Homo sapiens: one gene and its partners. The protein of the gene in region 1 purifies or fractionates together with the protein of each later gene. This does not show direct contact. Each region holds a gene or a part of one and is shown in the gene's direction. Other genes may lie near its edges.

The links.
Region 2: the proteins of PGM1 (region 1) and PGM2 fractionate together in Homo sapiens (co-fractionation; 2 studies listed by BioGRID). This does not show direct contact.
Region 3: the proteins of PGM1 (region 1) and TALDO1 fractionate together in Homo sapiens (co-fractionation; 2 studies listed by BioGRID). This does not show direct contact.

The regions. Positions count from the first base shown.
Region 1 is NC_000001.11:63,631,382-63,638,532, forward strand, and holds part of PGM1 (phosphoglucomutase-1), read left to right. Parts: intron 1-275; coding exon 276-401; intron 402-3,447; coding exon 3,448-3,638; intron 3,639-4,852; coding exon 4,853-5,007; intron 5,008-7,151. UniProt on the Homo sapiens protein: Catalyzes the reversible isomerization of alpha-D-glucose 1-phosphate to alpha-D-glucose 6-phosphate. The mechanism proceeds via the intermediate compound alpha-D-glucose 1,6-bisphosphate.
Region 2 is NC_000004.12:37,829,622-37,836,772, forward strand, and holds part of PGM2 (phosphopentomutase), read left to right. Parts: intron 1-342; coding exon 343-510; intron 511-4,996; coding exon 4,997-5,103; intron 5,104-7,151. UniProt on the Homo sapiens protein: Catalyzes the conversion of the nucleoside breakdown products ribose-1-phosphate and deoxyribose-1-phosphate to the corresponding 5-phosphopentoses.
Region 3 is NC_000011.10:743,226-750,611, forward strand, and holds the start of TALDO1 (transaldolase), read left to right. Parts: upstream 1-4,238; 5' UTR 4,239-4,256; coding exon 4,257-4,353; intron 4,354-7,386. UniProt on the Homo sapiens protein: Catalyzes the rate-limiting step of the non-oxidative phase in the pentose phosphate pathway. Catalyzes the reversible conversion of sedheptulose-7-phosphate and D-glyceraldehyde 3-phosphate into erythrose-4-phosphate and beta-D-fructose 6-phosphate.

The DNA.
Region 1 (7,151 bases):
TGTGGGCAAGTTTCTTAACCCTTCACACGTCGAGTTTCCTCATCTATCAAATAGGACTAATAACATTTACCTCTCAGGAAAATTGTTAGTATTGGGTAAGGATTGGTAGTATTAGATAGTATCGGATATCACTTAACAGCCGTATTATTGGAGCTGTTCAATAATTGTCCTTTTAAAATAGCAATAGCAGGTTTACAGCAATATAGTCACATCAGAATATAATATTTCTAAATGTGTTTAATCCTTCCATCTTTTGATGTTGCTTGTTCTCACAGTGGAAATTGTGGATTCGGTAGAAGCTTATGCTACAATGCTGAGAAGCATCTTTGATTTCAGTGCACTGAAAGAACTACTTTCTGGGCCAAACCGACTGAAGATCCGTATTGATGCTATGCATGGAGGTATACAATCATTTCTTTTCAATTCCCATCTCTTGAGGATAGGAAGTTGCCCTCTTCTGTGTGTATCATGATGCTTCAACAAGCCTTTTCTCAAGTCTCTCTGATGGTTTTTAAATAGAGTTATTTTGCAACCAGAGCAATATTCACACAGATAAAAATCTAATTGTATGTAGCAAAAATAGTAGAGACACTCCTCGTGGTAAGCTCGTGTGAAGGTCAGTGTTTCCACCTTAAGCATCAGGTTCTGAGTAACATGCAACTGCTGTTGTGGACTCTCCCTCCCCCTCAGAAGATACCTTACATTCTTGCTGCATGCCCCCATGTATTTCTGAGAGGACGGTCATTTGGGAGATGTGATAAACATACTCCTGAGCCCCACACCCCCACTCACCTGCCCCCAAATGCTCGTTTTCTTAGAAGAGGGCAAGAGCAAGCTGAGGATTAAATTCAGGAGCAACATGATGTGTACAGCCCTCTCTTCTTCCTCCGTGGGTTGTGTGGTCAGGTCCATAGAGAGGGCAGCTATCACTGTGAACCAGAACCACGAGGGTTTTCTCAGACATGTAGGTATATGAGAATCCCTGAAACCTATACACATACATCTGCCTGGTTGGAGAAGCCTTTCTGCCTGCAACTGAACCCTTTTAGTGATGCAATTCGGGGATTCCTGTGACACTGCAAACCACAGAAAGTCTTCTGCTGGTGAACTAAAACCTTCCATCCTTGAAACTTCTCCCCTTGGGTCCTAGCTGGCCTCTGGACTCCCATAGAATGGATCTACTTCCTTACTCAGACAAAAGCGATTCTGTCATTTTAAACCATTCAACAGATGTGTATTGCATACCTGCAAAATGCATGCCTGGGGAATAGGCAGGAACTGGGCAGATTACTTTCTTCAAAGAATGTGCAATGTTTGGGGAGACGAAGTGGGTAAAAAACTAACCCCGGGGTCGGGCGCGGTGGCTCACACCTGTAATCCCAACACTTTGAGAGGCCAAGGCAGGTGGATCATGGGGTCAGGAGTTCAAGACCAGCCTGACCAACATGGTGAAACCCCATCTCTATAAAAGTCTCTATAAAAATACAAAAAATTAGTCGGGTGTGGTGGCACATGCCTGTAATCGCAGCTACTCAGGAGGCTGAGGCAGGAGACTAGCTTGAATCCGGAAGGCGGAAGTTGTAGTGAGCGGAGATCACACCACTGCCCCCCAGCCTGGGCGACAAAGCAAGACTCCGTCTCAAAAAAACAAAAAATCCCTAAAAAACTAACTCCTGCCAGGCCAACAAAATGAGAGTTGGAATTTCAAGTATTCTCTTTGGGGTTGGAAGAAGGCATAATTTGACTAGGTATAAAGAAAGGTTTCCTGGAAGAAGTGGCATCCAACTCAGTTCTTATGAAAGAAAGATCTAGAGTGATGAAAAATCAAGCAATGGTCATTCTCATGGAGTCGGTGGCTGTGGCAAAGGCATGAAGGCTTAAAAATGGATGTCACATTAGGGAAACGAGAGGCCTGGGCTGGCTGGATAATGGGGCATGTGAGGAGGGCATTGGGTAAGAGGAGCTTCTCCGGAAGAAGACTACTTTTCTCCAGGTCTTTTGGCTGTTCCTCTAATGCTTTCGTTTCTATATCCCTCACAGCCCTGGCTGCCTTGACCTCATTCTGTGGTGTGTCAGTAACCTGCTTAATAGGTGATGCCTCATAGGACACATTTATTCTACAGTGTTATGACCTCTGGGGCATGTACTGTATTGGGATTAGTACCATCCTTGATGAAAATACTCTCTCAGCATTTCAGAGATGCGTGTTCTTGGTAGTTATATAAAATGTCACTGTAAACATATGTAACTGGCTTCTCCTGTTGTTTGTTTTTGGTGGTGGGTTTTTTATTTTCTTTTTTTTTTGAGACGGAGTCTTGCCCTGTTGCCCAGGCTGGAGTGCAGTGGTGCAATCTCAGCTCACTGTAACCTCCGCCTCCGAAGTTCAAGCGATTCTCCTGCCTCAGCCTCCTGAGTAGCTGGGATTACAGGCGCCCGCCACCAGGCCTGGCAAATCTTTGTGTATGCATGTGTGTGTCTGTGTCTCTGTGTGTGTGTGTGTGTGTGTGTGTGTGTGTGTGTGTGTGTGTGTGTGTGTGTATATATATATATATTTTTTTTTTTTTTTTTTTTTTTTTTTTTAGTAGAGACAGGGTCTCACCATGTTGGCTGGGCTGGTCTCAAACTCCTGACCTCATGTGATCTGTCTGCCTCAGCCTCCCAAAGTACTGAAATTACAGGTGTGAGCCACCGTACCTGGCCTGTTTGTGTTTTTTTAATCAGTTTGTCAGCTAGCTTGTCATAATATAAAGATAACAGCTCTGAATCCCAATTCCCACTTTTCCTAGCCATGTAAGTTTGGGCAAATGTCTTTACCTCAGAACACCAACATTCCAATGTATCTGTAAACTGCAGGTGATAATCATAATATAAACATTTATAACATATCTGCCAGGTACTATTCTCAGTACTTCATAGCTATTAACTCATTTAATCCTTACATCAATCCTGTTAAGTAGTTAGCATTACTACCCTCATTTTGCAGATGGAAGAGACTGAGGCACAGAGAGTTTAAATAACTTTCCCAAAATTATTATACAGCCAATGACTGGCAGAGCTGGGATTTGAACCCAGACACTCTGATTCCAGAGTCCAGGCTCTTAAGCTCTAAGCTGTACAACCTTCTGAGCTTTTCTGAAGGACTGAATGGGAAAGCACAGGTATACCGCAGGGCCTTTATAATGGTTGGTTTCCTTTCCTTTCCCCACTCTGCCCTTCATGAACTGGCCCCACCTTTTCCAACATAATCTCTCATTGTTCCTTTTTAGAGAACATTCTTCTCCAGTCAGGCGTATCTCTCCACTAGTCCCTGAACACATTTCACACATTCCTGTTGTTTCTCATGCCATTCTTCTCCCCAGAATGCATCCACCTCACCCCTGAATCCTCACATACTTTAAGGAGTTTTATTTTCTGATTCTGCATACATTTATTCCATGCTGTATATAGTTGTGGGACCGTATGTAAAGAAGATCCTCTGTGAAGAACTCGGTGCCCCTGCGAACTCGGCAGTTAACTGCGTTCCTCTGGAGGACTTTGGAGGCCACCACCCTGACCCCAACCTCACCTATGCAGCTGACCTGGTGGAGACCATGAAGTCAGGAGAGCATGATTTTGGGGCTGCCTTTGATGGAGATGGGGTGGGTATAAGTGCATTTAAGTGAACTCTGGTGCAGGCCAGGCCTGATCCTGCAGATGGGGAAAAAAGTGGGCTGCTTCTGCCAGACCCAGGGAATAACTGTTAAGGATCCCTCATTCTGACCCGAGGTCAGAACTAAATTATTAGAAGCCCCTCTTGAACAGGAATAGGAGTCATTGAAATGAAACCCACACATTTAATTTCAGACATCCATACTTGCTAACAATGGCACGATGATTAGGTTCTGATTATGATAGAATGACTGGTATTTCCTGAGCTGGGTGAGTTCTAGATGCCTGTCTTAAGGTGGGTTTCTGCTCTCAACCAGCAGCTGGCTACTTATTTAATCTCTGGACAAGATTTTGGTCTTATAATACACCCATTCATTCATTCACATGAGCTGAATATTGAAGCTGTAATTTCATTGCCTATATGAAGATGATATTGAGAGAATTAACATTTTAATCATTCTCTACCATTAAAATGTTTAGAAATAAGCTGTTTTATTTACAAGGGTGACTATGTACCAGACAAGGAAGAGATGTGTCTTAGGTTTATATCCCTGGTATCTCACTGATGGTAGGCACTGTATACATTTACTTAGTTGAAAATATATTTTTGTTGTTGCTAGTGTTACCATTAGCTAGAATCCACTGTTTCCTGAAAAATGATTTTTCCCTTATCAAAATGTTGGGAAATTAAAGGGGTTCCAGCAGACATTATTCTGTAGTACATCTTTGTGATGAGTGCATTCTGGGAGTGTTTTTTGGCCACCCTCCCAGTTACTGTGGTACACAGACTGTGGTACACAGTTTACCCAGTAGACCTACCAAACTATGTAAACAGCCAATATTTCTTCTCTCATTGCATTTTCCCCTCCCCTGGGAAAAAGATGATTGGTTCCAGAGTCTGAAAAAAGTCTAGGAGGTTAAAGTTAGCTGGCCTCTGGAGGGAGAACAGAGGACTCAGCTCAAAAGGAGGTTGTGCTTGGACTTTAATTGAAAACAGTTTTAACTTTTTGGCATGGAGGTGCCTTCGGCCCAATGGTACTGTATAAACTCATTGAAAATAAAACCCAGTGTTAAAAATGCAGTATGGAAAGGAGATCAATTTCAAATTTTATAGTTTTACATTTTATAAAACCCCCATGAAAGATAGTTTGATTTCTTATAGTTTGATTAAAAGGTCTTTCTTTGATCCTCTCTTCTCCCCAAGGATCGAAACATGATTCTGGGCAAGCATGGGTTCTTTGTGAACCCTTCAGACTCTGTGGCTGTCATTGCTGCCAACATCTTCAGCATTCCGTATTTCCAGCAGACTGGGGTCCGCGGCTTTGCACGGAGCATGCCCACGAGTGGTGCTCTGGACCGGTAGGTGTCTCCATTCCCTTGGCCTTCCTGTCTTAGGTCGTCCCAGTCTTCACCATACCCTTCACTGTGCCTGGAACACGTGTCCTTCCCTTTCAGCATGGGCATCTGATGCATAGAGTGTGCTGAGCGATTCTTGTGTGAGGGGATGGTTGGCTTTTTCTGGATTCAATGCCCCTCTCCGCACTCCCTTGGCACCCTGGGCCTCCTCCTCCTGGCACTTACCACACTGTGTTCTAGTAGCTGTTTTCTTGATGGGCTGCCCTGCTAGACTGTATACTTCTGCAGAGAAAGGACTGTTTTGTTCACCATCTGGACTCTGCCTGACCATAGCGTGCCTGGCACATAGTAGGACAAACACACACACACACATACACGTATAATTTTTTAAAGTTAATGAATAGTTGAGTGTTAATGAATAACAATGGAAGTACTCAAGACATCATTCTGGAGGATCACTTTTCTTTTGCAGTGTGCACAGAGTGTGGGTGAAAGAGCAGTTTGAAGTAATTTTAGAGTTTCAACGACTGGATCGCTCTTGCCCACACAAACACAGTGAATGTTTATATATCACTTCATTGTACAAAGGCTTTGAGGTGGCTTGTTAGATCACACTTAAAAAGTTGAAAAATGAAAGTCATAACAGATGAGGACCAGGGAAAACATTAGTTAGAATATGTCAGGTGTGCAGGAAATGTTTGATGAATAAAAGGTAAAGAATGAATGAATGAATAAAAGGTCAAGGCCAGGGAGGAAAGTAGGCTGTAATATATCTCTAGGCTCTTATAATAATAGCTGATATTTATTGAACATTACTTTGTTGTAGACACTAAATATTTTGCATGTTTTAATTCATTTACTTCTCAGATGAACCCCATGAGGTAAATGCTGTATTTAACACCATTTTTCTGGTGGGAAAACCAAAGGACGAAGAAGTAACTTACCTGAGGTCACCCAGCTGGTAAATGGCTGACTCAGGATTTGAACCCAGAGCCTTTGCTCCCACTCACTGGGCCATGCAGTTGTTTTCTGTAGAGGGGAGATGGTTATAGAATTGGTGCTGACTTTGCTTCAGCTAACAAGAAAATAGCCACTAATATCCATATAGTGGTTTGTAGTTTGTATAGTGTTTTTTTACATTCACCATCTCAATTGATCCTCACAGCAGACCTCATTTTAAGGAAGAGGAAATGGAAAGTCAGGGAAGTTAGCAGTCTTGTCCAAGATCTCACCACCAAATTAGAGCTAGCATTTGAGCCCAGCACGTCTACCATCAGGTCCTGCATTTGAAATTATGAGCTGGTTTGAGGTCACACTATCATATGTTAGGCCTGTCAGGTCCTGGAATACCTTCTATGTCATCCAAGAACAGTGTAATTCCAATTTTTGGAAAAATTGATAATCCACATATAGAATCACAATTGAAGTACCTCATTACCCAGATAAAAGTTTATTGTACTTTCATAGTTTTCAAAATCATAGATTTGATTTTTCCTCAAATATCAGAATGCAAAGCTGACATTGCTTTCCTGGAAATAAGGCAAACATTCTGGGAAGCAAATCTCGCTCAAACAGTGAATGGAACTTATCAGGTAACTTTTCATGTTCAAAGGGAAAGGAATTTTTTTTTAAGTCACTCAGAGGTTTTAAATAGTTTAAAGATACCTAGAGAGAAATAAAAGACGTGTTAGAAGGGAAGGGGAACCACTAATCAGTGTGGGTGAAGCCAGTACTTAGGGGAGACCCCACTGGGCGTTTCCCCTGGGGAGACTTCTGATGAGACAAAAGCAGCACTGACCAGAGAGCTGAATACTGGGCGGTCGGTCATCCTGGCTTTGTGACCTTTGTCTGATCACATAACATTCTGGGCCCTGTTTCCTTCTCTGTAAAATGCTAACTGCCCAGACCCAGTATGTCATGATTCTGTGATTACAGGTGCATCAAAACATCATTCTTCTCTTCTTTATAGATTGATTATAGATGCAGTCTGTATCCAAAATGTGGATTTAAATAGCTTAAACAGCAGCCCTGAACATTTTACTACGGATGCTTCTTCTAAAATATTAAACTCCATGATCTGAATTAATTCTTTCTTCTTCCGCCTTCTCTGAATCCACATATAATAGCCCATTGTGCACAAGGTTTCT
Region 2 (7,151 bases), on another chromosome or scaffold:
ATAGGGAAACAGAATTTGAGAACTGGAATAATCTGCGCAAGCACCTAGAGTTGGCAAGTGGTATTCTGGGATTCCATTCTGGGGGTTAGACTCATATGCTAAAATCTCTACTTTGATTTCTCCAAAGGTGCTTACCTTGACAGGAAAGAAAAGAACACTTACATTATAATGTCAAACTGACTTCATATTTCAGATTTCAAAAGCATCAGAAAATTGAAAGGTCTACATATATATATATACATATATATATATTTTCTATAGATTAGAATGATTGTGAATTTTTTTACATTTCTGATTTTTCATTCACTTGTCTGGCTGTGTCTATACATTTTTGTTTTTCAGAATTCCTTAACTTTGGAGGCAGTGAAACGACTAATAGCAGAAGGTAATAAAGAAGAACTACGAAAATGTTTTGGGGCCCGAATGGAGTTTGGGACAGCTGGCCTCCGAGCTGCTATGGGACCTGGAATTTCTCGTATGAATGACTTGACCATCATCCAGACTACACAGGTACCATGTTTTTTATAATTCTTAGTAACTCAATGTATCCCCTAGCTCATTTTCTATTTGGCAGACCTAATTTATTCTAATTATAGACATGTCTTACCAGCTTGGCTAGACACAGGAAGTCACCACCATTTACTCCATAAAGTAAGGCTTGCACAATAGGTCGAAGTAGCACTTATTCAGGACTCATATAGCCATCCATCCATTCATTCATTCATTTAACACACTTATTGAGTACATACCATGTGCCAGCACTGGGGATATAAGAATGACTCGAACAAACAGATTCTCTCATGGAGCTTTCATTCCAGTATAAATGCACCAACTAAGCTGACAACTTTTAAGGTCCTGTAATTTTTGCCATGATTACATAGCAAGTGCTAAAAAGCTTTTCTAACTGCCGGAGTTACCAAGAGCCTGTTCTCCTTTGTTTTATAGTATGGATTGAGTCTGTCTTAATTTGTGAATATTTTTGTCAGAATCTAGACCCAGCTTTTAGGAAGGAGATAATTTGACAAAACAGAAGTGCTTCTACTGGGTATTGGCAGTACTGTTTATGAGGGAAATGAAATAGAACAGATTATTCACATCAGTATTTCTTCACCTTAGACCTGTTGATGATGAATGTCACTTTAATTGTGGGAAAAGAAAGGCTAGAAAAAATTGCCTAATAGTGATTACATGTGCCTCACGTATACATCCCAGTGTAAAAGGCAGAGCTGGGCATGTTGTAACAAAACTCCAACAAGGAAAGCTTATCTAAGGGTATAGAATTACCACAGGGGCCAGGCGCGATGGCTCACACCTGTAATCCCAGCACTTTGGGAGGCTGAGCCAGGCAGATCACTTGAGCCTAGGAGTTCATGACCAGCCTGAGCAACATGGTGAAACCCTGTCTCTACCAAAAATACAAAAATTAGCCAGGCGTGGTGGTGTGCACCTGTAATTCCAGCTTCTTGGGAGGCTGAGACAGAAGGATTGTTTGAACCCGGAAGGCAAGGTCGTAGTGAGCCGACATTGTGCCACTGGACTCCAGCCTGGGCAACAGAGCAAGACTCTGTCTCAAAAAAAAAAAAAAAAAAAAAGAATTGCCATGGGAACTCCTGGTCACAAATTGTTATTAAGCAATAGGGCTCCCTGAGATGCTGGAGGAAAGACTTAGAATGGGGTAAGTATGGGAATCCTGTTTGGTTCATGGATAACATAGGAACTGTGCTGCTGAATAAGGTTGCCTTCTGTACCAGTTACTAGGGCTATGTAACAAATCATTGAAAACATAATGGTTTAAAACAACAACCACATTTATTTTGCTCACAAATCTGCAATTTTGGTAGAACTCAGTGGGGACAGCTTGTCTCTGCTCCACTCAGCACCATCTGGGCCAGTTTGGAGGTTGGAATCATTTGAAGGCACCTTCATTCACACGTCTGAAATTATTACTGGCTATTGGCTGGGATCTTAGCTGGGGTTGGAACCCCTTCATGTGGCCTGGACTTCCTTATAACATGGTGGTTGGCTTTCAGTGAAGTATCCAGAGAGGGAGAGAGAGAGAATGTGCCAATTGGAAGCTGTGCTGACTTTTATGACGTAGCTTTGAAAGTCACACAGTGTCACTTCTACCGTATTCGGTTTGTTAAAAGTGAGTCAATAAGGCTGTCTCATATTCAAGGAGAGGGCACATAGATACCCACTTCTCATTAAAGGAGCATTGATGTCACATTGTAAGAGGAACATGTGAGATGGCTTATATTACTGGGGCCATCTTTGGACAATCCAGTTGGTTACACCTGCCATTGGGCCTAATTGTTAGGGGTTTCTAAGGGATTCTAGATTAACCTAGAGCTTTTTCCCCTGTATTTTTCTATATCTAGTTTCTGAGAATAATGAAATGTATTCCCATTAAGGACTATCTTACCCATTTTTATCCTAGAATTCATCTCCTCTGGGGGTAAACCCTGTGGTAAACATAGATGATCAATATTCTAAAGGTCATGTAATTCAACCAGACACCCCTTGGGATAATTTTCTCCATGACCCCACCACTCTGAAGTGCTCATTCAGCCTATTCTTGGATACTTGTAATAGGAGACAGAGATGTGAAGAGTTAAGAAAGTTTTATCTGAGCAGCAAGTATATCTTTAAAATCTTAGGAGTGGATTCAAAATTAGAGGCAAGAGGATTCCCAGAACAAACAACCCAGGTTTCTACCCAGTCTTGGGTAGTGTTCCCTGGCAGAATGCTGATATGCAAATATATTTGTCACTTTTCACTGATCAGACTTTCATGGTGGCATAGGTGCCCTTCCTGCTGGTCTCTGGGTGTGGAGCCTCATTCTGAGGTACCCCAAAGTTTGCCTGGTTCATTTAAGAAGCAGATGTATGTGATTCAAAAATATGTCAAAGGAAACAGGACAGAGACTGGAGGAAACTTTTGTATTGTTTGCCTCATTGATAGAGGTTATAATTTCCTCCTGCCAATTAATTTATGCTTTATTTATGTTCTATTTTGGGTTCTGTGTTCATAGATTATTTAATTTAGCCATAGCATACCAGTGATGGGAAACTCACTGTCCTCTGAAAGAGGCCATTCTATCTTTGGACCATTCTCATTAAAAGATGGTTTCATTATTTTAAGCCAAAATCTGCCTTTCTGTAGACTTTACATATTGGTCTTAGTTCTACTTTTTGAAGGTCATACACATAAACTTGCTTCTTATGTTTTATAATAACATTTTATTTCTGAAAACCTCCCTCTTCCCCCACTGAGTCTTTCATCTAGAATAAGAATTCCCTTTTCCCTTGGCCATTCTTTCAGGTCCTCATCCTCAGCAGGCCTCCGAGATTTTTAGAGAATCTGGAGATGTGAATGCTTTTTTGCCCCATGGAGCATTGGGGCCACAGCTCAAGGGTTGAGCAGGAAGAGGGGTACTGTCACTGTTGTAAGTCTTGAAGTATCAGGCATCTGGGTACCTTCTGGGGAACCCACAAAACCAATACACATGGCCTTATTTCCTTGTATCACTCAGCCTCAGAAGATAATCCCAGTGCAATGTATTTGTCAAGGAAAAGCTAAAGGCATTCTAAATTAGCTTGGCTCTCGCAACAAGACTGTGATGTATCCCCTCCTACCCAAAATAAAAATTATGGCTTGGACATGGTGGCTCATGCCTGTAATCCGAGCACTTTAGGAGGCCAAGGCAGGAGGATTGCTTGAGCCCACAAGATTGAAACCAGCCTGGGCAATATGGCAAGATCCCATCTCTACAAAAATTGTTTTTTAAAAATTAGCCAGACATGGTAGCATGTGCCTGTAGTCCCAGCACCTCAGGAGGCTGAGGTGAGAGGATTACTTGAGCCTGAGAGATTGAGGCTGCAGTGAACCATGATCGTGTCACTGCACTCCAGCATGGGAGAGAGTGAGACCCCATCTCAAAAGAAAAAGAGTTATGTATATTTTAATAAGACTTCCTTTAGCAAAAGTGAAATAAATAATATAAAATGAATCATTATTTTTGCCCAATCAACCAGAGTTCTCTTTGTTTTATATGGCTTTGAAGGAAAATAACAACAAAAATAATGCGTAAAACAGCAAACACTTAATATAGTACTTAGTTGGTGTTGAATTCTCAGCACTTTGCATGTTTTCATTCATTTACTCCTTATGAGGTAGGTATTATTGTTATTCCTGTTTTACAGAAGAGGAAACTAAGGCACCAAGAAATTAAGGAACTTGTCATTTGCTTGTAGGTGGCAGCGTGGAGTACAAATTCTCAGATTGTGCTTCTAGAGTATGTGCTTTTAAGCCCTACACTGAACTACCTCTCACCAGCCCTGGATACAAATCCAGGCTCTGCTACTCGAATATCTGAAACTGTCACTGTGCCTCTCTGAGGCTTATTTTACCCATCTATAAAATGGGTTTTCTGGTCAGGTGCAGTGGCCCACACCTGTAATCCCAGCATTTTGGGAGGTCAAGACAGGAGGATTATTTGACAGTAGTTCAAGACCAACCTGGGCAACATTGCAAGACCCTGTCTCTACAAAAAATTTTTAAAAATTAGTTGGGCCTGGTAGCATGCACCTGTGGTCCTAGCTTCTCAGGAGGCTGAGGTAGGGGGGGATTGCTTAAACCCAGGAATTCAAGGTTGCAGTGAACTATGATTGTGCCATTGCAACTCCAGCCTAGGCAACAGAGCAAGACCCTGTCTCTGGAAAAAAAAAAAAATTTCCTAACAAAGTTGATCTGAGGTTAGAGATAACAGCTACTAAGTGATCAATGACTAACACAGTGCCCAATACAAAAACATAGATAATAAACAAAGCTGTTATTTTATTATTGTTCAGTTTGCTTCCTTACTGAGATGAATTTTTCCCTCTCTCCCATAGTGTTCTATGAAATTTGAGAAAACTTAATTTTTGGCTAATTTTTCTATATGGTATATATAAAAATATGTTAAAACATACTTTTTAAATCTATGGTGTATTTGTAGGGATTTTGCAGATACCTGGAAAAACAATTCAGTGACTTAAAGCAGAAAGGCATCGTGATCAGTTTTGACGCCCGAGCTCATCCATCCAGTGGGGGTAGCAGCAGAAGGTATTTAAACATTTTTACAAAATGATGTTTTTATAATTTATTTTGCAGTTTTATTTTAATCACCATCTCAATAACTTGACTTTAATATATTCATTAGCCTCATTGCTTAACTGTAAAAACAATGGGTAAATTCTCTTGGCAACTTTTAAAGATTCTGGTTTTACATTAGGTTAAGGAAATAAAATTATTTAGACAATTTAGAATGTAATACCTAGCTAAAAGAAAGAAATTTCTTAAACTGGCAATATTATTTTTCCCTCTCATTTGCCTTTTTATACATAATTTTTACCCTGCTATTCATAAACCTCATGACCCCCTTCCCTCTCTTGAACGCCCACGTCAAGCTGCATTTCTGAAACATTCTCAAACCAATGGGACTCTCTTATGTAGCTGAAGGCATATGATGCTGATGGTGACAATGATAATAGTAATAGCAGCAATCATTTGAGTGCTGATTATGAACCAGACACTTATGTATTTACTCATTCTATCCTCACAGCAACGTGTAAGGTATGTACTTTTATCTCTTTACCCTGAGATTATAATGTGAAAGGAGGAGTCGCAATTTAAGCCTAAGGACACTAGTACCAGGGGTCAGCAAACTTTTTCTCTAAAGGGCAAATAGTGGATATCATACACATTGCATATCACATGATTCCCATCACCACTACTCACCTCTCCCATGAAGCAGAGAAACATCCATCGACAATGCATAAACACAGGAGCATGGCAGTGTTCCAGTAAAACTTTACTTACAAAATGGGCTGTAGTTACCAACCCCTGCCCGTAACCATGTTACATAACCCTCTTTTTTACTTGAACACTTCCTCTGTTATGATGAATTTTTAATCATTCTAGAGTATCAGTATTAGTAGTAGCTTAGAATTACACATATTGAATATTAATGAAAAGTCTTATTAGCTTTACAGAGCTGGATGAGTTTATAGAGTCCTATCTTTGCCCATCAGGAGCTTCCAATCTAAGACAGAAGCACTCGTGGGGACAAACGTGTGGCCGTGAGGAAGGGTGCATAGCCGGGGAAAATCACCCGGTGGCATCAGCCCCAGGTTCAACTCAGGAGGGCATAAGATTTTTAGTCTTTAGCTTTGCAGCTCAAAAATGTGCTTTTTGTCAATAAAGCAAGAGAAAAGTTATAGCTCTGGGGGATAGATGCACATGAACTACATTCACAAGAGAATGATGTGGTATAAACCAGCATATCAGCTTGTCATTTACAGTTAGTGGATGTACAATCAGAACTAAATCGTGACCGTGTTCCTCTGCCGCCCCAGGGCAAGTCAGATCCTTTGCTCAGAGCATGCAAAGTGCACGTATGTGGCTAAGTCTGTCTGCTGAGCTGCGTAAATTTCTTCATTTTGGGCTGACTGCCCTGCTTCTGGTTGATACAACCTTCAGAGATATGTTAACATTATCAATTAAGGTACAGATTTTTTTGCCCTGGCCTTGGAGCCGTATCATTTCCTTAAAGTGAGTGATGTTACTGATTTAAGCTTATGGTTCAAGTCTCAGAGTTTGATGGGATGGGATGGAGTGGAACTCAAGGCTACTCTCTATCACCTGTAACGCGTGAGACATTTAGAGATCATAATGTAAGTGTTTAACCAACACATGGTAAAATATTCATGATGAGTGAATGGAATCTTCGTAAGGAGTTGGAAACTATTGCAGTTTCTGAATTTCGCCCGAGGAGATGTTTATCCTTTAATCTTCCAATTTTAAATATCTGGTGGGGAACGTAAGCAGTAACTGTTAAGTATATGCAGAGAACGCATTGCATTTTTTTGTGCACATTTGTAACAGAGAGAGAGAGTGGCGATCTGCTCTTTGTGCCCCAGCCAGCCTTCAGAATAGTGTCGGCGAAGCTAGTGCCCAAGAAGTATTTGGGGAGAGTAAGAATGATCTGATTGTTTAACTCACAGGGGTGGTATAATGTTGTTCATTCTAAGTAAATCGCTCATTTATTTGTGGTAACGTATTTTACACCAGCTTGAAGGAAGATTTGATGCCATTTTCTGCGTCTTACCCTA
Region 3 (7,386 bases), on another chromosome or scaffold:
GTAGCTGGGACTACAGGCACATGCCACGATGCCTGGCTAATTTTTTTTTTTTTTTTTTTTTTTTTTTTGAGATGGAGTCTCGCTCTGTCGCCCAGGCTGGAGTGCAGTGGCGCGATCTCGGCTCACTGCAAGCTCTGCCTCTCAGGTTCATGCCATTCTCCTGCCTCAGCCTCCCGAGTAGCTGGGACTACAGGCACCTGCCACCATGCCCGGCTAATTTTTTGTATATTTAGTAGAGACAGGGTTTCACTGTGTTAGCCAGGATAGTCTCGATCTCCTGACCTCGTGATCTGCCTGCCCCGGCCTCCCAAAGAGCTGCGATTACAGGCGTGAGCCACTGCACCCAGCCTAATTTTTGTATTTTTAGTAAAGACGGGGTTTCACCATGTTGGCCAGGCTGGTCTCGAACTCCTGACCACAGGTGATCACCTGTCTCGACCTCCCAAAGTGCTGGGATTACAGGCGCGAGCCACCGTACCCAGCCTTTGTTCCACTTTCATTCCCACCAGCAGCGCATGGGTGTTCCTGGAGCTCCATGTCCTCACTGGCACTTGGTGTTGCCAGTCTTTTGTTCTCACTATGATCCATGTGGACAGATCTCATGGTGGTTTTCATTTGCATTTCCCTAATAAATACTGTATACCACCAAGCTTGTCCAGCCCTTGGCCTGCAGGCCGCATGTGGCCCAACACGAATTCGCAACCTTTCTTAGAACATGAGATTTTTTATTTGCAATTTTTTTTAAGCTCATCAGTTATTGTTAGTATATTTTACATGTGGCCCAAGACAGTTCTTCCAGTGTGGCAAGGGAAGACAAAAGATGGCTACCTGCTCTATACCTTCTTCTGTGATGTATATTTCCTATTTTTGCATTTCAATGGAGAGAAGAAAGTCCTCTCAACAGATGCTGGAACAGGTGGAGAAAAACTACTTTCCATATCCAGGTCACGGAGACAAAAATAAAGGGGGCCAGGCGCGGTAGAGAAAAACTACCTTCCACTTCTAGGTCACAGAGACAAAAATCAAGGGGGCCCTGTGCGGTGGCTCATGTGAAACCCCGTCTCTACTAAAAATACAAAAAATTAGCCGGGCGTGGTAGTGGGCGCCTGTAGTCCCAGCTACTCGGGAGGCTGAGGCAAGACAATGTCATGAACCTGGGAGGCGGAGCTTGCAGTGAGCCGAGATCGTGCCACTGCACTCCAGCCTGGGCGACAGAGGGAGACTCCGTCTCAAAAAAAAAAAAACAACAAAAAAAAAACAAACAAACTGGAGTGGCCTCAAAGACTCTTAACATAACAGCTGAAAACCAAGACATCATAAGAAAATATTTTTGAGGCCGGGCGCGGTGGCTCACGCCTGTAATCCCAGCACTTTGGGAGGCCGAGGCGGGCGGATCACGAGGTCAGGAGATCGAGACCATCCTGGCTAACACGATGAAACCCCGTCTCTACTAAAAATACAAAAAATTTAGCCGGGCGAGGTGGCGGGTGCCTGTAATCCCAGCTACTCGGGAGGCTGAGGCAGGAGAATGGCGTGAACCCCAGGGGGCGGAGCCTGCAGTGAGCCGAGATTGCGCCACTGCACTCCAGCCTGGGCGACAGCGAGACTCCGTCTCAAAAAAAAAAAAAAAAAAAAATATTTTTGTTGGCTGGGCGTGGTGACTCACGCCTATAATCCCAGCACTTTGGGAGACTAGGGTGGGCGGATCACGAGGTCAGGAGATTGAGACCATCCTGGCTAACACGGTGAAACTCTGTCTCTACTAAAAATACAAAAGTTAGCTGGGCGTTGGCCGGGCGCAGTTGCTTAACACCTGTAATCCCAGCACTTTGGGAGGCCGAGGCAGGTGGAACACGAGGTCAGGAGTTTGAGATCAGCCTGGGCAACACGGTGAAACCCCGTCTCTACTAAAAATACAAAAGTAGCCGGGCATGGTGGCCCATGCCTGTAATCCCAGCTACTCGGGAGGCTGAGGCAGGAGAATCGCTTGAACCTGGGAGGCGGAGGATGCGGTGAGCTGAGATCGCGCCATTGCACTCCAGCCTGGGCAACAAGAGTAAATCTCCATCTCACCAGAAAAAAAAAAAAATTTGTCACTTTGGAGCAAGCAAAGACTCCTTAGAGAAGATACCAAAAAAGAGGAGTAAATATAAAATTAAAACTTGATAAATTGAACTTAATCAAAATAAAAAGCTAACGTTCATTAAAGACACTATTAAAATGAAAAGGGAACACATGCTGAGAGGAAGTATTGAAACCACCTTTGCAAAATTATAACTAAGGAAATTATGACAGTGAAAGATAACAGACTTAACCAATTCCATCTTGTTTCTAACCTTCAAACGGTCCTTGTCCATTACTGGCCATAGGCCAAACAAGTCTTGGGAAGGAATTTAATTTATAGTTTAAATAATAGCCCTTCCCCAAAACTAGACTGTTCTTGTAAAATGAATGAAAGGCCACCAGCCACCAAGTTAGAATGAGAGGGGCTGGAAGTCTAAATATTATCAGCCATTATTCTGGAGGTCATAAGATAAGATTTGCAACTTCCCCAAGATATCAACACTACTGTGAACCTAGGGTTGGCCTTTTTTTTTTTTTTAAATGGAGTCTCGTTCTGTAGCCCAGGTTAGTGTACAGAGGGACAATCTCGGCTCACTGCAACCTCCACCTCCCAGGTTCAAGCCATTCTCCTGCCTCAGCCTCCCAAGTAGCTGGGATTACAGCCATGTGCCACCACGCCTGGCTAATTTTGTATTTTTAGTAGAGACGGGGTTTTGCATGTTGGCCACGCTGGTCTCCAACTCCTGACCTCAAGTGATCGCCTGCTTTGGCCTTTCAATGTGCTGGGATTCCAGGCCTGAGCCACCGCGTCAGCCTAGGATTTGCCTTTTAAGAAGTCTTTTCCGCCGGGCGCGGTGGCTCACGCCTGGAATCCCAGCACTTTGGGAGACTGAGGTGGGCGGATCACGAGGTCAGGAGATCGAGACCATGCTGGCCAACATGATGAAACCCCGTCTGTACTAAAAATACAAAAATTAGCCGGGCGTGGTGGTGAGCGCCTGTAATTCCAGCTACTCGGGAGGCTGAGGCAGGAAAATCGCTCGAACCCGGGAGGCGGAGGTTGTAGTTAGCCAAGATCGCGCCACTGCACTCCAGCCTGGGCAACAAGGGCGAGATTCCGTCTCAAAAAAAAAAAAAAGTCTTTTCAGGTTTTTGCATTTCTGACAACCGGATGGCCCCACCTGGACCTGCCAACCAGTTGTGTGGCCTCTACCCAGGGACTGACTCAGCATAAGCGGACAGCTTCGACTCCCTGTGATTTCATCCCTAGCTGACCAGTCAGCACTTCTGACTCACTGGCCCCCTACCCACCAAATTATTCTTAAATACTGGGATCCCCGAGTTTTGGGGAGACTGATTTGAGGAATAAAACTCTGGTCTCCCGAACAATCGGCTCTGTGTGAATTATGCTTTCTCTATTGCAATTCCCCTGTCTTGACAATAGACTCTGTCCCGGCAGCTGGCAAGGCGAACCCATGGGGCGGTTACAGTGTCTGCAACGCAGACACAAGCGACAGAGACTTGATCAGAATATACAAGGAACTCTGCAAGTCAGCGATGGTAAGAAGCAGGGCAGCTGGGCCTCCTACGCCTGCCTCGCCGTTCGGTCCCCCGGACACCTCTGGGCTTAGGACTCAGGGGAACAGATTCCCAGAAGCAGGTTCCCCGCCGCGTCCGGCGCCCGGGCTCTGCAGCCGCCCCCTGCTCTGCCTCCTGCACCCGCAGGGCGTCCCCCGCCGCTCCCTCCCCTGCTTCCTGCAGCGGCCCCCGACCCCAGTCCTGGCCCCACCATGGATCCTGCATCGCCGGGTTCGGCCCTGGCGGGTTCAGCCCCGCAGAGTCGGCACCCGGGCCAGGTCCATCTCCTCCAGCCCTCCCGGTGCGTCCCGCGGGGCAGGAAGGAGGCGAGGCCCAGCCGCCCCGTGTCGTGCAGGTGTTTTCCCGGGCCCGTCCGCGGCGGCTGCTGAGGACCTGGGGAGACCCAGCCTGTAGGATCCGCAGCTGCGGTGCGCGGCCGGCAGTGGCGCTCGGGCTTCGTCCCCGGGGGCGGGGCTTCGTCCAGGCGCGCAGGGACCAGCGGGCCTCGCCCTCCCGCGCCGCTTTCCGATTGGCAGCCGCCCGCGGGGCATTGTGGGCCGTCCGCGCGCCCGTCCCGTCGCCGCCGCCGCCGCCGCAGACCCCTCGGTCTTGCTATGTCGAGCTCACCCGTGAAGCGTCAGAGGATGGAGTCCGCGCTGGACCAGCTCAAGCAGTTCACCACCGTGGTGGCCGACACGGGCGACTTCCACGGTGAGGACGGCGCGGAGCCCGGGCGCGGCGCAAGCGCCCTCCAGAGGCCCCGGCGCCCCGATTTCCCCGGGTCTCCCGTTCCGGGACGCGGACCGGGTGGCGGTGCCCCGGGCGGCTCGTTCCGGGAGGAATGAGCGCAGGTGCCGGATGTTGGGGCCAGGGACAGCCGTGAGGGGAGCGGGGCCCGGGTCGGCCGTGAGAGGCGCAGGGCCAGCGGCGACCGTGAGGGGAACGGGGCCCGGGTCGGCCGTGAGGGAGCAGGGCCGGGGGCAGCCGTGAGGAGCTGGGGTCAGCCGTGAGGGGCTCGGTGCTGGGGTCAGCGGTGCGGGCGGTACTGACGGGTCCTTGCGAGCCGTGGGGCACGAAGCCGGAGCCCCAGCCTCGCCCTCCGCCCAGGGTGGGGTCGGCTGCGCCCTCAGACCCCGCACCCGGGACGGGCTGTGGGCAGCCCGCGGGAGCCCCTCTGTGCACCTTCATGGGTCGAGGCAGCTTTCAGAGCCTTTGAGTTCAGGAGAGATTCAGGGTAGAGCTTCGAGCTGACTTCCACGTGGCCAGTTTGTGGTCAGCGAGATGCAATTTTGTTGGGCTGATGTCTGCAGAGCGGGGACATCAGCTAGCTCTGACCAGAAGCTGCCAGTGCTGCCATCGCCCTTGAGCCCTGCGGTGCCCAGTGGGACAACTCCGTGGGCGGCAGGTGCCCGGCCTGCTGGACAGCCACCGCCAGACGCACCGGGTGGGTAAAAGCCGGTGCCCATGAAAGCACAGGGTTGGTACACTGTTAAATACTGGATTTTCCTGGGCTTGAGTTGTTTACATTGGAGAGAACTTGGAAAATACAAAGAAGGATTATTTATTAATACTTAGCTCTTCTGTCCTCTGCAGTGCAGAGTAGACGAGCCTTGTGTCTATGTTTTGTTGAGAACAAGTAATATTTTTTAAGAAAATCATGAAACGCTTCATGGATGAATGCTGCGAGCACCTAATACGGAAGTGACTTCCTCTCTTTTCTGCTTTCTCATGGTGACTTGAGAAACAGGCTTTAATTCCTCTTTGGTAACTGAGTAAGGGCATTGTTTATCTAGCAGAGCCTAGAGAGTGAATTGGCATGTTTGGCTGCTTAACCATAAAATATGGGGATTCAGTGACTGGCTTGGGGTGCCACAGTCTGCTCCGGACCCCTCTTTGGGAGATCCAAAGCTAGAGCTGTGAATCCCTCACACACACAGCCCCCCCGTTGTAGTCCAGACCTCTCTTCATAAGAAAGAAAGCTCCAGAAAAGGGGCTACACATTTTTCTGCTGCTCAGTTTTTTCCCTTCTTAGCACTGAGAATAATTTGCAGTTTGCCTGGTGGACAGAGCGCTCATCTGTATTGTTCCTTACTGGCCCTCACCAGTTAGGGCAGAGCTGGTGCGGAGTGTCAGGTCCATTACACTTGGCAGTGCAGGGCCAATAAAGATGGATTTTCCTAAACCCACACCCACAGGAGGGCTGGGGAGTCCTGGGTTTCTGGTTTTGTTTTGTATTGTTTTTTAAGAAAACTTCTGGCCCAGCGAGGTGGCTCACGCCTGTAATCCCAGCACTTTGGGAGGTTGAGGCAGGTGGATCACGAGGTCAGGAGTTCGAGACCAGCCTGACCAACATGGTGAAACCCCGTCTCTACTAAAAATACAAAAATTAGCTGGGTGCGGTGTTGCATGCTTGTAATCCCAGCTACTTGGGAGGCTGAGGCAGGAGAATTGCTGAACCCAGAAGGCGGAGGTTGCAGTGAGCCAAGATCACACCACTGCACTCCAGCCTGGGCGACAGAGCAAAACTCCGTCTCAAAAAAAAAAAAAAAAAAATCTTCTAAACCCAAGTTGTGACATTTTTTTTTAATGAATATTAACAAAAAAATACATTCATTGATAGTATATGTTCATAAATGTTATATAGTTGTAAAATAGTCTGTTGGGTTTGTGATCTGTAGTTTGTGAAGTGAAGGTTCTTAACTCCTTGTGGGAGGGAGGCACAGGCCTCTGGAAATAGAATCAAAGCTGTGAATGCTCTTCCCACAATGTGATCCTCCCCATTTTGCATTCAGTTTAAGGATCCCTGGACCCTGAAACCCATTTTTGCCCCAATGGGCCTTGGTTTTGTTTTAATTTTGTAAAAGCCATTTGCTAAAAGCTGACTTTATCCAGGGGTGATTTTACAGGACGAAATGGGCTGTTTTCAGTGCCTCATTCAGTGCATTCTGGCAGACCTGTGTTAGCACTGTGCCAGATGTCATGTTGAAATGAGTATAGATGCACAACAGGCTTTTTCTTAACTTGTCATGTTGAAATGGGTATAGATGCACAGAAGTTGCAAAATCAGCCCATACAGTCCTGTGAACCCTTCAACCACTGTCCCCCATGGTGACATCTCATGTGACCATGGCATGGCATCCACACCGGGAAGTGGGCACTGCTGTGGTGCTGATGCTGTTATAGACTGCAGGCCTGGCTCAGGGCTCCCCAGTTTCCCCCTGCACTGGGGCAAGGAGGCTATGTGACAGTTTCATAAAGTGTGTAAATTCCTGGACCACTGTGACAGGACATAGCTGTCCCATTGTCACTGAGATCCCCGTGTCCCTCAGAGACCCCTCATTCCCTGTTCCTTGGCAACCTCTAACCTGTTCTCTACCTCTATAGTTTTGTCATTAAAGGACCCTTTGAAAGTACTTATTCCAGCCTGCGCAACATGGTAAAACCCCATCTCTACAAAAAGGAAGAAAAAAAAATAGCCAGGCGTATTGGTGCACACCGTAGTCCTAGCTACTCAGGAGGCTGAGTTGGGAGGATCACTTAAGCCCAGGAGGTTGAGGCAGCAGTGAGCTGTGACTGCGCCACTGCACTCCAGCTTAGGAGACAAAGTGAGACCCTGTCTCAAAAAAAAAAAAAGATATTTATTTGCCAAATAAAGTTACTGAACTTGTGAACTTCGGCCGGGTGTGGTGGCTCAAGCCTGTAATCCGAGCACTTTGGGAGGCCGAGGCAGGCCGATCATGAGGT